Regions from separate parts of the Homo sapiens genome. Here all the other regions are reported to be linked to region 1. Evidence: microRNA targets listed by miRTarBase, many of them from high-throughput screens and not tested one by one. Region 1 holds a microRNA gene; each other region holds the end of a gene's coding sequence.
Evidence for each region. The annotated mature microRNA hsa-miR-488-3p reads UUGAAAGGCUAUUUCUUGGUC and lies in region 1 at 2,176-2,196, opposite strand. An mRNA with a match to its seed (bases 2 to 7 or 8) in the 3' UTR can be bound and repressed. Matches are read on the target gene's strand: a 7mer-m8 pairs with bases 2 to 8, a 7mer-A1 pairs with bases 2 to 7 and ends in A, and an 8mer does both.

Region 1 (4,388 bases):
CTCCCTGTAAACACTTCCCTGAAACCTCCAAGAACAGATTCTCACTGATTCCTTGGTGTTCTAGCCCTTGGTGCTATAAGGTGTGATAAGAGCTGTTAGAGCTCTTATCACATAGAATCATCACTGTTTACAGGCAATTGCCACTGCTCTCATGTGATTTCAATGACTTGCTACGGATATTCCTGACTCTATGGTCTTTCTGCATCATCGACCCATAATCCAGCATCTCTACCTGGTTTCAGAACCTCCAATGGTTCCTTACACCCCACTGAGGCAAGCAGAAACTCAGTCACATGGCATGTGCATGGTCCTTTGTTAGCCATTTTCCAGCCTCATCCTTACCATCTCGTGTGCGTATATATTTATAACTTGATGACAGCTGCCATATTGAACGACTTTTACTTCCTTTAAAACACCATGTTCTTTTGTCCCTTCAAGGCTTTTTATGTGCCATTTTCCTTTACTGAAATGCCCTTATCCTAGACTTCTTCTCCTCTTTTGAGAAACCCAGTACAGTGTGTGTGTGTGTGTGTGTGTGTGTGTGTGTGTGTGTGTGTGTGTGTGTATGTGTATATATACATATATATAAAACCTAGTTCTAATTACTTTCTCCTTTTTTGCCTCCCATTGCTTTCAGGTAGGATTAACTGTCCTCTCTTCTGAGTACTCTCTTCACTTTATTTATATTATTAAATTAAGCCTTATCACTGGGCCATATTTTCATGTTTCTACCACCTATCACAAACCTGACCCACAGCAGGTGGGTTATAAAATGTTTTTGCTGCACTGATGGATATATCCAATCCAATTCAACAAACACTTACAAGCATCTGTTACAGGAAAAATCCTTCACTAGGCACTTTGGAAAAATAAATTAGGCATTCCCCACCCCTAAGAAGCTTACAGTCTGGTTAATAGCGTAAAAAGTTGATGCATTAGGAGACCTTGGTATTTAAAAGGAACAGTTTCATGCTGTCGAGAAACTAATTCATTACCATGGATTTTTCTGAAACAAGACTTTATTAAAGCAGGACACACCCTGCTTTGATTAGGCCTGGATTAGCTGGGCCTAGGTTGGGTATCCACTGTCTAAAATTTGTAATAAGTATCAAGGGAGATTGGGAGACCCTAATCCACATTCTCGCCTCACAGAACCTGGCCATTCAATATTAGAATACCCAGAGCCACAATGATCTCTTGAGAAAAATGATGGAAAAACTTTTATTATACTGATAGTAGTTAAGCCTATAGAAACTGGAATTTATAATCAAAAGGGCTTCTTCAAATCTCTGGGAAGAACACCTGTTATGAAGGGAATTCAAGTGGAGGTACGAGAGAATAAAAATGTATATGTCTTTCAGGAGACACTGGTTGACTATTGGTTGAGGAAATTGTTATGGAATGTATTACAAGGAGATGCCACTCAAATATCCTCTACTGTATCTTACAGGGACGCTGCCTAAAATTCTTTAAGATGGGGCACTGTATAAATATGGGGCTGCATGATGGAGAGTTCTAACAGCAACAATAGGGATTTCATAGTGCTTTAGCAATCTCCAAAAAGGCACATTTTAATATAATTTAATCCTGATAAAGCTCTATGTTCTACGCACAAGGTATTGTTAACTCATTTGACATGTGAGTAAACTGAAGGTCAGAGAACTTGTTGTTCTTATCCAGTACCACACAGCAAATAACTGGTAAAGCTGACCGGCGCTTGTGCTCCGAACTCCGCTGGTGTGGTGGTGATACAAGTGAAGTCAGAGGCAGTGGGAGCTGTGGCCGGAATAGCCACAGTTGAAGCCACTGATCATGACAGTGAAGTGGCACACAGTGGCTGCGTGGAAGGACAGCTCTGTCCACGTGGAGGAGAATGGATTAGCCACCTTAACCCTGCCAGGGGAAAGGAAGGAACTGGGAGGCTCGGGGTCCTGTGATTCTACCAGGCAGGGGCTTAAAGGTCAAAGACAATTACACAGATTTTCAGGCCATAGATCATTCCTCAACTACACTGCCCCCAATCCTTGCCTAGCTCAAACCCAAGGCCAATGTGGTAGAGGAAGCAGGGGTACATATAGTATCCATCTTTTCACATACAACACACTTTATTAACTTTGTTTGTCTGAACAGCAAAATATGACTCCTGAGTCTTCCAGAAGAAATTGAGAGTCATCTGACCAAGAAATAGCCTTTCAAACAATTTGGAAACTTGTTTGAGAGTGCCATTATCTGGGAGAGATGATTCTCTGAAATTTTCCACTCTAGGCTCTTCTTTCTTCCTTAGGAGGAAACACCAGTTGTGGTCCAAAAATTCTTCTTGCAGAAACTGGTTTTGTTCCATAGAGCCCACAACCCAACCCAACACCTCTTCGCCTTCCCCCGCCTCCCTCACTCCCAGATCCTTTACCACCTTCTGCCACCTCTATCATTCCTACCTCTACTACGCCTCCTGCTCCTTGAAGGATCCGTGTAAAAGGTCAGCTGGGGGTCGTTTTCTGCCTCTGTGCCAGAATCCCCTTCAGGGTTCAAGAAGGCGGAACCAGCTGTAATGAAAGCAGCATGGTCAAGAAAGCGTTTTCAGTTCTGGTTTCATGACACCAAACCTTTGGGCAAGTTCAATGGGAAAATCAACAAAAATGAAAGTAAGCTGACTGATAATCTGGGAGAAATAGCCAAGGGGGTTGGGGCTTCCTCATACACGGATATGTTGGAGAAGTAGACCATTGGGACAGCAATCACTGGAGCTCTACCCTGCCCCACCCACTTCCCTCTGACTAGGGCCATTTCTGGCACCTATCTGCCAGAGAGGACCTCCAGGGAAAGTGGGTGGAATAGGAAGAAAGGGAAATTTCCCTCATTACAGGTTATGATTCTGTTAATATGAGACTATCTAAGAGGTATAGGAAATTACATCTTTGTGTTTTTTCTGGCTCTAGAATTATATATATTTAATACAAAAAAGACAGAATAGAATAAAGGAAATGCACAAAACTATGTAAAGGGAACAATTCTAATGCCCTCTAAATCCTTTAAATCAGAGATAAACTCTGCTAACATTTCATGTGTATACTCTCTGGCTTTTACTGACACAGAAACAGGTAAAGGTTTTTTAATCTCTCTTTAAAAATGACATTATGCTGTATCTTCTATTTTATAACTTCATTTTTTTTCCCATTTAATAGATGGGTGGGCAACTTTCCATATTAACAAATATAGATCTATATTGTTTCAAATGGCTGCATGGTAAGTGCTGGACAGCAGACAGATGTGCTAGGTAGTTAACCAATTCCCTGTTGATGGACATTTAAGCTATTTCCAATTTTTCACTTGTTTAAACAATGCTGTGATGAACGGCCTTTTACACACTTCTTTGCACACTTGTCCAATTATTTCCTAAGAATAGACTCTTGTTGGTGAAATTACTTGGTCAAAAGGTTTGCACATTTACATTTTTTTGGTAAGTAGCATTTAACTGGCCTCCAGAAAGGCTGTGCCAGGGCATACCCTCTCCAGCCACGCATGAGAGAATGGGTAGAAGATATTAATGGCCCTGCCTCTACCAATATGAAGGAATCCACCCACGAGCCCTAATGTCAGACATGCATACCTCTTGCTTTGTTGTTGATCCGCTTTCTCTGGCTGCTGGAGGTGTGAGAGAGAAGGGTGGCTTGCTGGTGGTTGGAGTCCACAGGGCTAGTGGCTATAATATTATCTTTATACTTGTTCATCAGTGACAGCTTGGCATTGTCACTTCCTGTATAAGGAAAAGACGAGGCAAAAACTTTAAGAGAAAAGACCAAAAGAAAGGGAGAAGAAGGAAATCTGCATAAACCAAGAAGATAAGGTCTCACAGAATTGAAATAAGACACCAGCAAACTGAGAGACTGGCTGCAAGAAACTGAAATACTCCTTTTTTATTTCTGAGGGACTGCAAAGTTATGGGAGAAGCAGTGAAGTCAGGGAACTACAACTGAAAATCCAATTCAACTATTATTATATTATGTATTATAATATTCTGTATTGATAAGGTCAGCACTTGTAACCCTTTGGCTAAATACAGACTGCAGATTTCTTTATTTTTGGTCAGCACAGAGTTTTAAAAGAATTTGAATTTGTGTGCATTCAGGCAGAACATGCCCCTTCTCTTTCATCACAGTCTGCGCCATTCTGTATTGTCTGACCTCTTCTCTGCTTCAAATATCTGTGTTATCTGTTGGCCTCCTAAAGGCATTTGAGTTGATAATAACCCCTGAGTACCATATGTCTACTTTGTGGGCTTAGCACTACACCAGGTGTTATGGTCAATATGAAGAGATGTTGATGATATGTCCCCCATATTCTCAAGGAATTTTCAGGCTTTAAATCTCATTAGAAATTGGCTCTTCATG
Region 2 (4,000 bases), not on the chromosome of region 1:
CTCTACTGAAAATACAAAAATTAGCCGGGCATGGTGGCACATGCCTGTAGTCCCAGCTACTCAGGAGGCTGAGGCAGGAGAATCGCTTGAACCTGGGAGGGGGAGGTTGCAGTCAGCCAAGATTGTGCCACTGCACTCCAGCCTGGGCGACACAGCAAGACTCCATCTCAAAAAAAAAAAAAAAAAAACAACTTTATGACATGGGAAACTGCTTATGCCAAGTGAGGAAAGTGCAGTTCATAATTGCATGTCGTTTTTTAGGATAATCATAGTAGGGGAAAGAACTAGATTGCAGCATCTGAAGATATAAGTGGGTGATATTTGTGACTCCTTATTAGTTAAGGAAACATTTTAATAAGAGGTTTTTAGCTGAGGCCTGAAGTTAGGGAAGAGAACAGGCCAGGAACTATGGAACAGGTCTCTCTGGCCTAATTAGTCAGGTATACCCACTGATGTCACTTTCCTTCCAGGTGTCAGCTGACAGGGGCTCTGGCCACAGCTTGTGGGGATGACGCGATCCGCGTGTTTCAGGAGGATCCCAACTCGGATCCACAGCAGCCCACCTTCTCCCTGACAGCCCACTTGCATCAGGCCCATTCCCAGGATGTCAACTGTGTGGCCTGGAACCCCAAGGAGCCAGGGCTACTGGCCTCCTGCAGTGATGATGGGGAGGTGGCCTTCTGGAAGTATCAGCGGCCTGAAGGCCTCTGAGCTACCTCGACTTTGGACAGAGTAATGACTCCCCAGAAAACGTCATATAAGACTTTACCAGCCCCTGAGAGGACCAGGAGGAGCATCCTTGACCTTCATTTAACTTGGCTCACTTCTCTTCAGACTTGGGTAGAAGTGCAGAGCCACAGAATTGCTTTCCTTCCCCGCCTTTGACATGAGGCCTTCAGTAAAGAGCTACAGAACATGAGTACATTGTTATACCACAGATTTTTCTTGCATTAGGGCACAGTGTTAAATTTTTTGGAGGTAAATATACTATTTATAATCACTATATATAGTAGGAGGGGGTATGTGTCTCAGGCTTTTCTGAAGTTGCAAGACTTAAAGAAATAATCCATCTGCATCCCAAGTCCTATTTTATAAGGATATTCATAAAAATTCCATGGTGAATCCTTGTCTGAAATAGGTCCTCCCTTCCCAGTTTCTGTGTAAGTCTTTGCATTTAAGACATCCAATCAATAATGAAGGAAATTTTTTTCTGAATGTAGGTTTGAGTGAGGGGCACCTCTGCTTTCCCTTAGCAACCCTCATATACCTCCCTGCACCGTTACGCTGTGATGGCAACTGGGGATAGAAAAAAAATGGGGAAAGACAGGAATCCTAAAAGGGAGAGTTATTACTGGCCACAAGCCCTGTATTCTCAACAGGGATGCAAATTGGTTCTTCAGTAAGGATAAAAAAAAATCACAAGCAGTTGTTTGTGGCCCTCCTAAGGCCCACAGCACATATAGTGTGTCTGTGATATTCCATTTTCATGGCAGGGAGTGATCAGGAAGAAGGCTTCCTAGGGGACTGGCGATTTAAACCAGTTGAGAAACACTGCCATCAGCAGGCAGTTTCAGACTCACTCAAGTTGTCTCTTGACAGTCACTTCTAAATGGGTTCTAATGTGACAATGGCCTCCAAAACTACAGCCTTCCCTGAAGTTTAAGCTGTGACCTTAGATTTTAGAAGGACAGTGGGGCTGTACCTAGAATAGTGGTTCTCGAAGAATGCGGCCTGCAGATCCTGGGAGTCCCAAGACCCTTTCAGGGAGGATCTGTGAGGTCAACTGTTGGCACTGTGGCATGAATCAAGGTGGTGGCAGCAAACTTCTAGTAGTTTTGATATGTCCTTGATAGAACAAATAGCAATGGTTAACTATTAAATGTTGACCTAGCCAGCGCAGTGGCTCATGCCTGTAATCCCAGCACTTTGGGAGGCTGAGGCGGGCGGATCACCTGAGGTCGGGAGTTCGAGGCCAGCCTGACCAACATGGAGAAACCCCGTCTCTTCTAAAAATACAAAATTAGCTGGGCATGGTGGTGCATGCCTGTAATTCCAGCTACTCGGGAGGCTGAGGCAAGAGAATCGCTTGAATCCGGTAGGTGGAGGTTGCAGTGAGCCGAGATCATACCATTGCACTCCAGCCCAGGCAACAAGAGTGAAACCCTGTCTCAAAAAGAAAAAAAAAGTTGACCTTGAGAATTTATAATATTCTGAGAAAACTGGAAGCATGCATAAAGCCCCTCTGCTGTGCACTGAAGTATGGGTGCCTTGAGGAAAAGCAGTTACACAGTTGAGTTGCAAGCTGAATTGGCTGTGTTCAAGGCATGCCCTTTAGAATTGAAAGAACTAGCAGATTACGGTATTTAGACTTGAATATTTGGCTGATATTTTCTGGAAATTAATGGAATGAGCCTCTCACCTCAAGGGAAACAACTGATAGTGTTGCCAGTGATAAAGCTTTCAAGCAAAAATTGGAATTTCCGAAAATCTGTACTCCACCATGAGCTTTATTGTTGGGGATATTAACAAATGTGATTTGTATAATGAAATGCATTTCATTTGGAAGAATTCAATGAACCATTTTTCCAAGTGACCAGTACGTGATGTTACAAAATCATGCATGGCTCAAAGATTGATTCAAAAGTGTAAGACAGGCCAGTGGATTTTAATGTATTAACAATATAAGAGTGCATTAAGTTTTCGGAGTCTACATTGCCTTTAAGAAACTATGACTTGTAGTAAGCCGGGCGCGGTGGCTCACGCCTGTAATCCCAACACTTTGGGAGGCCAAGGTGGGTGGATCACAAGGTCAGGAGTTCAAGACCAGCCTGGCCAATATGGTGAAAGTCCGTCTCTACTAAAATTACAAAAATTAGCCGGGCGTGGTGGCAGATCCCTTGTAGTCCCAGCTACTCGGGAGGCTGAGGCAGGAGAATAGCTTGAACCCGGGAGGTGGAGGTTGCAGTGAGTCGAGATCGTGCCACTGGACTCCAGCCTGGGTGACAGAGCGAGACTCCATTTCAAAAAAAAAAAAAAAAAAAAAAAATCACTTGTAGTCTTGGTGTGGTATCAAAGAATAGCCACAATTAGCTGAAAAGGCTATTTTAAAAACTTTTCCAACTGCGTATCTGTGTGAAGTCAACTTACTTCAACAAAAAAGTTTGGATGTAGAAGCAGCTGTAAGAATTCAACTGTTTATTATAACAAGATACTAAAGAGACTGTAAAATGCCACCCTTCTCCTTGGATTGTTTTGGAAGTTATTCTTCATAAAAAATGTTAACGTGGGCTGGGCATGGTGGCTCATGCCTGTAATCCCAGCACTCTGGGAGGCTGAGGTGGGCGGATCACTTGAGCTCAGGAATTCAAGGTCAGCCTGGGCAACATGGCTAAACTCTGTCTCTATTAAGAAAAAAAATGTTAACATTATGATTTAAAAGTGCATTAACCTTAATCTAGATAATAAAAGCTTTTTGGGGCAACCTCCAGAACTGTGAAAAATAAATTTGTTATTTAAAAAGAAAAAAAAAAAAACAAAAACCTGAGTTTCTTAGTTTTTAGTAGTGTAAAGAGGTCCTAAGACCAAATCATTTGAAAACTGCTACCCTGAGGAAACTGCCCTTCAGAATCATCTTTCAATTTTGTGTGCATTTAATCTAAAGAACAGAAGGTAAGAATTTGAAGACAGTCGGAAGATCTGGATTAGAAAACCTGTTTATTAAGACTGGGTCACATCCAGCTAGTACATTTCAGTGCCCTTTCTGGTGCTGCCTCCCAGGAGCAGACACTGCAAATTTCAGAACCCCCATCTAGAGAAACCCCTAACCTGTGATCTAGCTTCCGAGGCTCAGTGTTGGTTCTTGTGGTAGTGCTGATGTGTGGGTACCACTGAGGCCAGGCCACAGTCGCATGTACCCTCCTCTGGGCTGACTCACGAGGCTACAGGGGACAGCACACCTAATGAGCAGGTCTGTCCTCCAGACATACTCATTAACAAGCAC
Region 3 (4,000 bases), not on the chromosome of region 1:
GCCCAGGCTGGAGTGCAGCAGCGCAATCTCAGCTCACCACAACCTCTGCCTCCTGAATTCAAGTGATTCTCCTGCCTCAGCCTCCCAAGTAGCTGGGAATACAGGCATGAGCCACCATGCCCAGCTAATTTTTATATTTTTAGTAGAGATGGGGTTTCGCCATGTTGGCCAGGCTGGTCTTGAACTCCTGACCTCAGGTGTTCGGCCTGCCTCAACCTCCCAAAGTGTTGGGATTACAGGCATGAGCCACGGCACCCGGCCTGAAGTCCCATTATTTACTAAATGTTTCCTCTGCTGTTGGAACTATCTTGTAGGCTATTTTCAGATTTATATTATAGATGATTCTATGAGGAACATCATCTTCATATCACTTCTTGCCACTGTAGAATAAGTTCCTTAGGATAGATACCCATAAATAGAGCTTGTACCTCATTCTGACCCTTGTTGCATATAGTAGATATAAACAAGTTTATTCCATTTGAGCACCTTATATGGTGAGGCGGCTATGTAGAAAATAGTGAGTGTGTAGGCTCTGAAGACAGATAGGAATATAAGGGCCATCCCAGAAATGCTAGTGTTTGGAAGAATTGAAATTGTACTTTCCCATTTATGGCTTCTTAACTTTTGTTTCAGTGATTGACATAAAACTGGAAAAGCCTCAGGAGCAACCAGTCAGTGAAGGAGGCTGTTCCTGCTAATCTCCCATGTCATCTTCAACCTTCTTCAGAAGCTCACTGCTTTGGCCCCCTTACTCTTTCATTGACTGCAGTGTGAATATTGGCTTGAACCTTTTCCCTTCAGTAATAACGTATTGCAATTCATCATTGCTGCCTGTCTCGTGGAGATGATCTATTAGCTTCACAAGCACAACAAAAGTCAGTGTCTTCATTATTTATATTTTACAAAAAGCCAAAATATTTCAGCATATTCCAGTGATAACTTTAAAAATTAGATACATTTTCTTAACATTTTTTTCTTTTTTAATGTTATGATAATGTACTTCAAAATGATGGAAATCTCAACAGTATGAGTATGGCTTGGTTAACGAGCGGTATGTTCACAGCCTACTTTATCTCTCCTTGCTTTTCTCACCTCTCACTTACCCCCATTCCCTATTACCCTATTCTTACCTAGCCTCCCCCGACTTCCTCAAAACAAACAAGAGATGGCAAAGCAGCAGTTCTACCAAGCCCATTGGAATTATCCTTTAATTTTACAGATACCACTTGCTGTAGGCTACGGACCAAGATGTCCAAAATTATTCTTGAGCACTGATATAAATTACGGTCTTCTTTGAGGTCAAAATTCAGCCATCATGGTAGGCAGTGCTTGAATGAGAAAAGGCTCCTGGTGCATCTTCAAAATGAGTCCTAAAGAACATACTGAGTACTTAGAAGTAGAAGAACATAAGATGTATTTCTGACTAAAACAAATGGCTCTTTCACATGTGCTTTATTAGACTCTGGGAGAGAAAATTAACCAAGTGCTTCAGAACAGGTTTTTAGTATTTAATTCTTCACGGTAAGAAAATGAAGTTCTAATGAACTGTTTCTCCCAAGGTTTTAAAATTGTCAAGAGTTATTCTGTTTGTTTAAAAAATAAGAAACCTCTTTAAGCAATAGATTTTGCTTGGGTTTTCTTTTTTAAAAACATAATACTGTGCAGGCAAGGCACTGTAAAAGTTTTAATTCCTTCCAGAAGAACCAGTGGAAGAATTTAAATTTGGCGCTACGATCAAAACTACTGAATTAGTAGAAATAATGATGTCTAAAGCTTACCAACAAAAGAACCCTCAGCAGAATAACAAAAACTTTGCTCAGGACATTTGAGGTCAAATTGAAGACGGAAACCGGAAACCGTTTTCTTGTAAGCCCCTAGAGGCAGATCAGGTAAAGCATACATAGTAGAGGGAAAGGAGAGAATGGAAATAAAACTCAATATTATGCAGATTTATGCCTTATTTTTTAGCATTTTTTAAGGTTGGGTCTTTCAGGCTGGTTTTGGTTTGTATTAGATCTGTATAGTTTAATTAACTGGTGATTTAGTTTTATATTTAAGCTACAATTAATCTTTTTTCTTTGGTGATATTTATTTCTTTGCCTTTTTTTTTTTTAACAACTTTCAATCTTCAGATGTTTCGTTGAATCTATTTAGAGCTTCACCATGGCAATATGTATTTCCCTTAAAACACTGCAAACAAATATACTAGGAGTGTGCCCTTTTAATCTTTACTAGTTATTGTGAGATTGCTGTGTAAGCTAATAAACACATTTGTAAATACATTGTTTGCAGGACGAAAACTTCTGAGTTACAGCTCAGGAAAAGCCTGCTGAATTTATGTTGTAAGCATTACTTAACACAGTATAAAGATGAAAAGACAACAAAAATATCTTCATACTTCCTCATCCCCTCATTGGAACAAAACCTTAAACTGGGAGAACCTTAGTCCCCTCTCTTTCCTCTTCCTCCTCCACTTCCCACTTATTGTCACCTTGTAATATTCAGAGAGCACTTGGATTATGGATCTGAATAGAGAAATGCTTACAGATAATCATTAGCCCACATACCAGTAACTTATACTTAAAGATGGGATGGAGTTGTAAAGTGCTTTTATAATACAATATAATTGTTAAAGGCAAGGGTTGACTCTTTGTTTTATTTTGACATGGCATGTCCTGAAATAAATATTGATTCAATATGGCAGATGGGTCATATTCTTTATTTGGAAGAAGTTGTGACTTCTGACATGGGTGTGATTGTCTTCCTACACTGTTGCATTTGATTCTTTTTATGTATTTTTAAGAAAGTAACCAGTTATACTGCTTTTAATATTGATTGGTCTTTTTATTTGGCTTGGAGTTCTTCAAAGCATTGAAGTGTGTTCATAGTCCAGGTTTTTTTTTTAATAAACACAATTTTGCTGCCAAAAATATATAAATAAAACACGAAAGAAAACAATTATTGACCTGGTTTCCCATTCCTGCCAAGATGGTGAATTAGCATTTACTTCTCCCTCTCTGGGAAGACCTTTAAAGCAGACATGGACAGAATCCAGAAAAATAACAACAACAAATGTGAGGAACTCCTAGGGAGTCAAAGACTCTTTTTTTGATGGGGGTATTGTTGGGGGGTGGGGGAGAGGGGCTGCAACTTGAAAGATACATCCCCTGGTGGAGGCAGTAATAGGACATATTAAGAAAAGCATCTTAAGTTCTGCTTTTGCGTCCTCACTCCTAACTATACCTTTGCCTTGGGACAGGAGCCAGCAAACTGTGGCCCTCCCACCAAATGCAGCCTGGAACCAGTTTTAAAAATTAAGTTTTATTGGAACTCAGCCATACTTTCCCACTATAATGGCAGAGCTTAATAGCTGCCACAGACCTTATGGCCCTAAAACCCAAAAAACTGTTTACTATCTGGCCCTTTACAGAGAAAAGGGCAACCCCTGCCTTGGGACAACCATAGCTGAACCCCTTACTGTAAAATGAAGGCCACAGGCCAGAATACTAGTGCAGGTGTCTGCAAGAGTAATATTAAGGCAGTACAAAAGCACTAATAAGCCGATGGAAATAAAGGCAAGGCCCTGAAATAAGTTGTGGCTTTGGGGGATGATACTGATACTGAATGGGAGTGATTACATGTGGGCTTATAGTTCCTAGAACTCTTTGCCCCAAAGTTTGTCCCCTCCTCTCCTTGACAGTCTTGTCCCTTGTGCCTTCCAGACTAGTAGCCTATACCCTGAGGGGAATTTGAACTCACACAGCAATATAGTTGAATACCTAAAAACTGCCTCAAAAGTAAAAGTAAATATCTAAAGCAGAAATACTTTGGGAAAGAACGAATAATTTAAGGATGACATGATAAATATTAAGGAGATAAGATATGAAACAATTTGGAATCATAAATTAAGTGTGAAAAGTTTTTAATTGTTGAAATGAGGAACACAGCCAGGTGCAGTGTTTCATGCCTGTAATCCTAGCACTTTGGGAGGCCGACGTGG

Region 2: miRTarBase lists CIAO1 as a target of hsa-miR-488-3p. Seed matches in the 3' UTR shown: 7mer-m8 at 1,757-1,763 and 7mer-A1 at 2,458-2,464.
Region 3: miRTarBase lists RAB6A as a target of hsa-miR-488-3p. Seed matches in the 3' UTR shown: 7mer-A1 at 2,119-2,125.

Annotation. Positions count from the first base shown.
Region 1 is chr1:177,027,199-177,031,586 of GRCh38, forward strand. It overlaps MIR488 (microRNA 488), which reads right to left and starts at 2,247; the gene lies at 2,165-2,247. ASTN1 (astrotactin 1) reads right to left here. Exons shown (of 23, transcript NM_004319.3): 4 at 3,608-3,754; 5 at 2,436-2,543.
Region 2 is chr2:96,270,641-96,274,640 of GRCh38, forward strand. It overlaps CIAO1 (cytosolic iron-sulfur assembly component 1), which reads left to right. Exons shown (of 7, transcript NM_004804.3): 7 at 471-3,533. The coding sequence ends at 711. SNRNP200 (small nuclear ribonucleoprotein U5 subunit 200) reads right to left here. Exons shown (of 45, transcript NM_014014.5): 45 at 3,698-4,000. Among named protein-coding and RNA genes, the nearest start is that of CIAO1, 6.4 kb to the left of the region's middle.
Region 3 is chr11:73,674,596-73,678,595 of GRCh38, reverse strand. RAB6A (RAB6A, member RAS oncogene family) reads left to right here. Exons shown (of 8, transcript NM_198896.2): 8 at 634-2,958. The coding sequence ends at 698. Among named protein-coding and RNA genes, the nearest start is that of PLEKHB1, 30 kb to the right of the region's middle.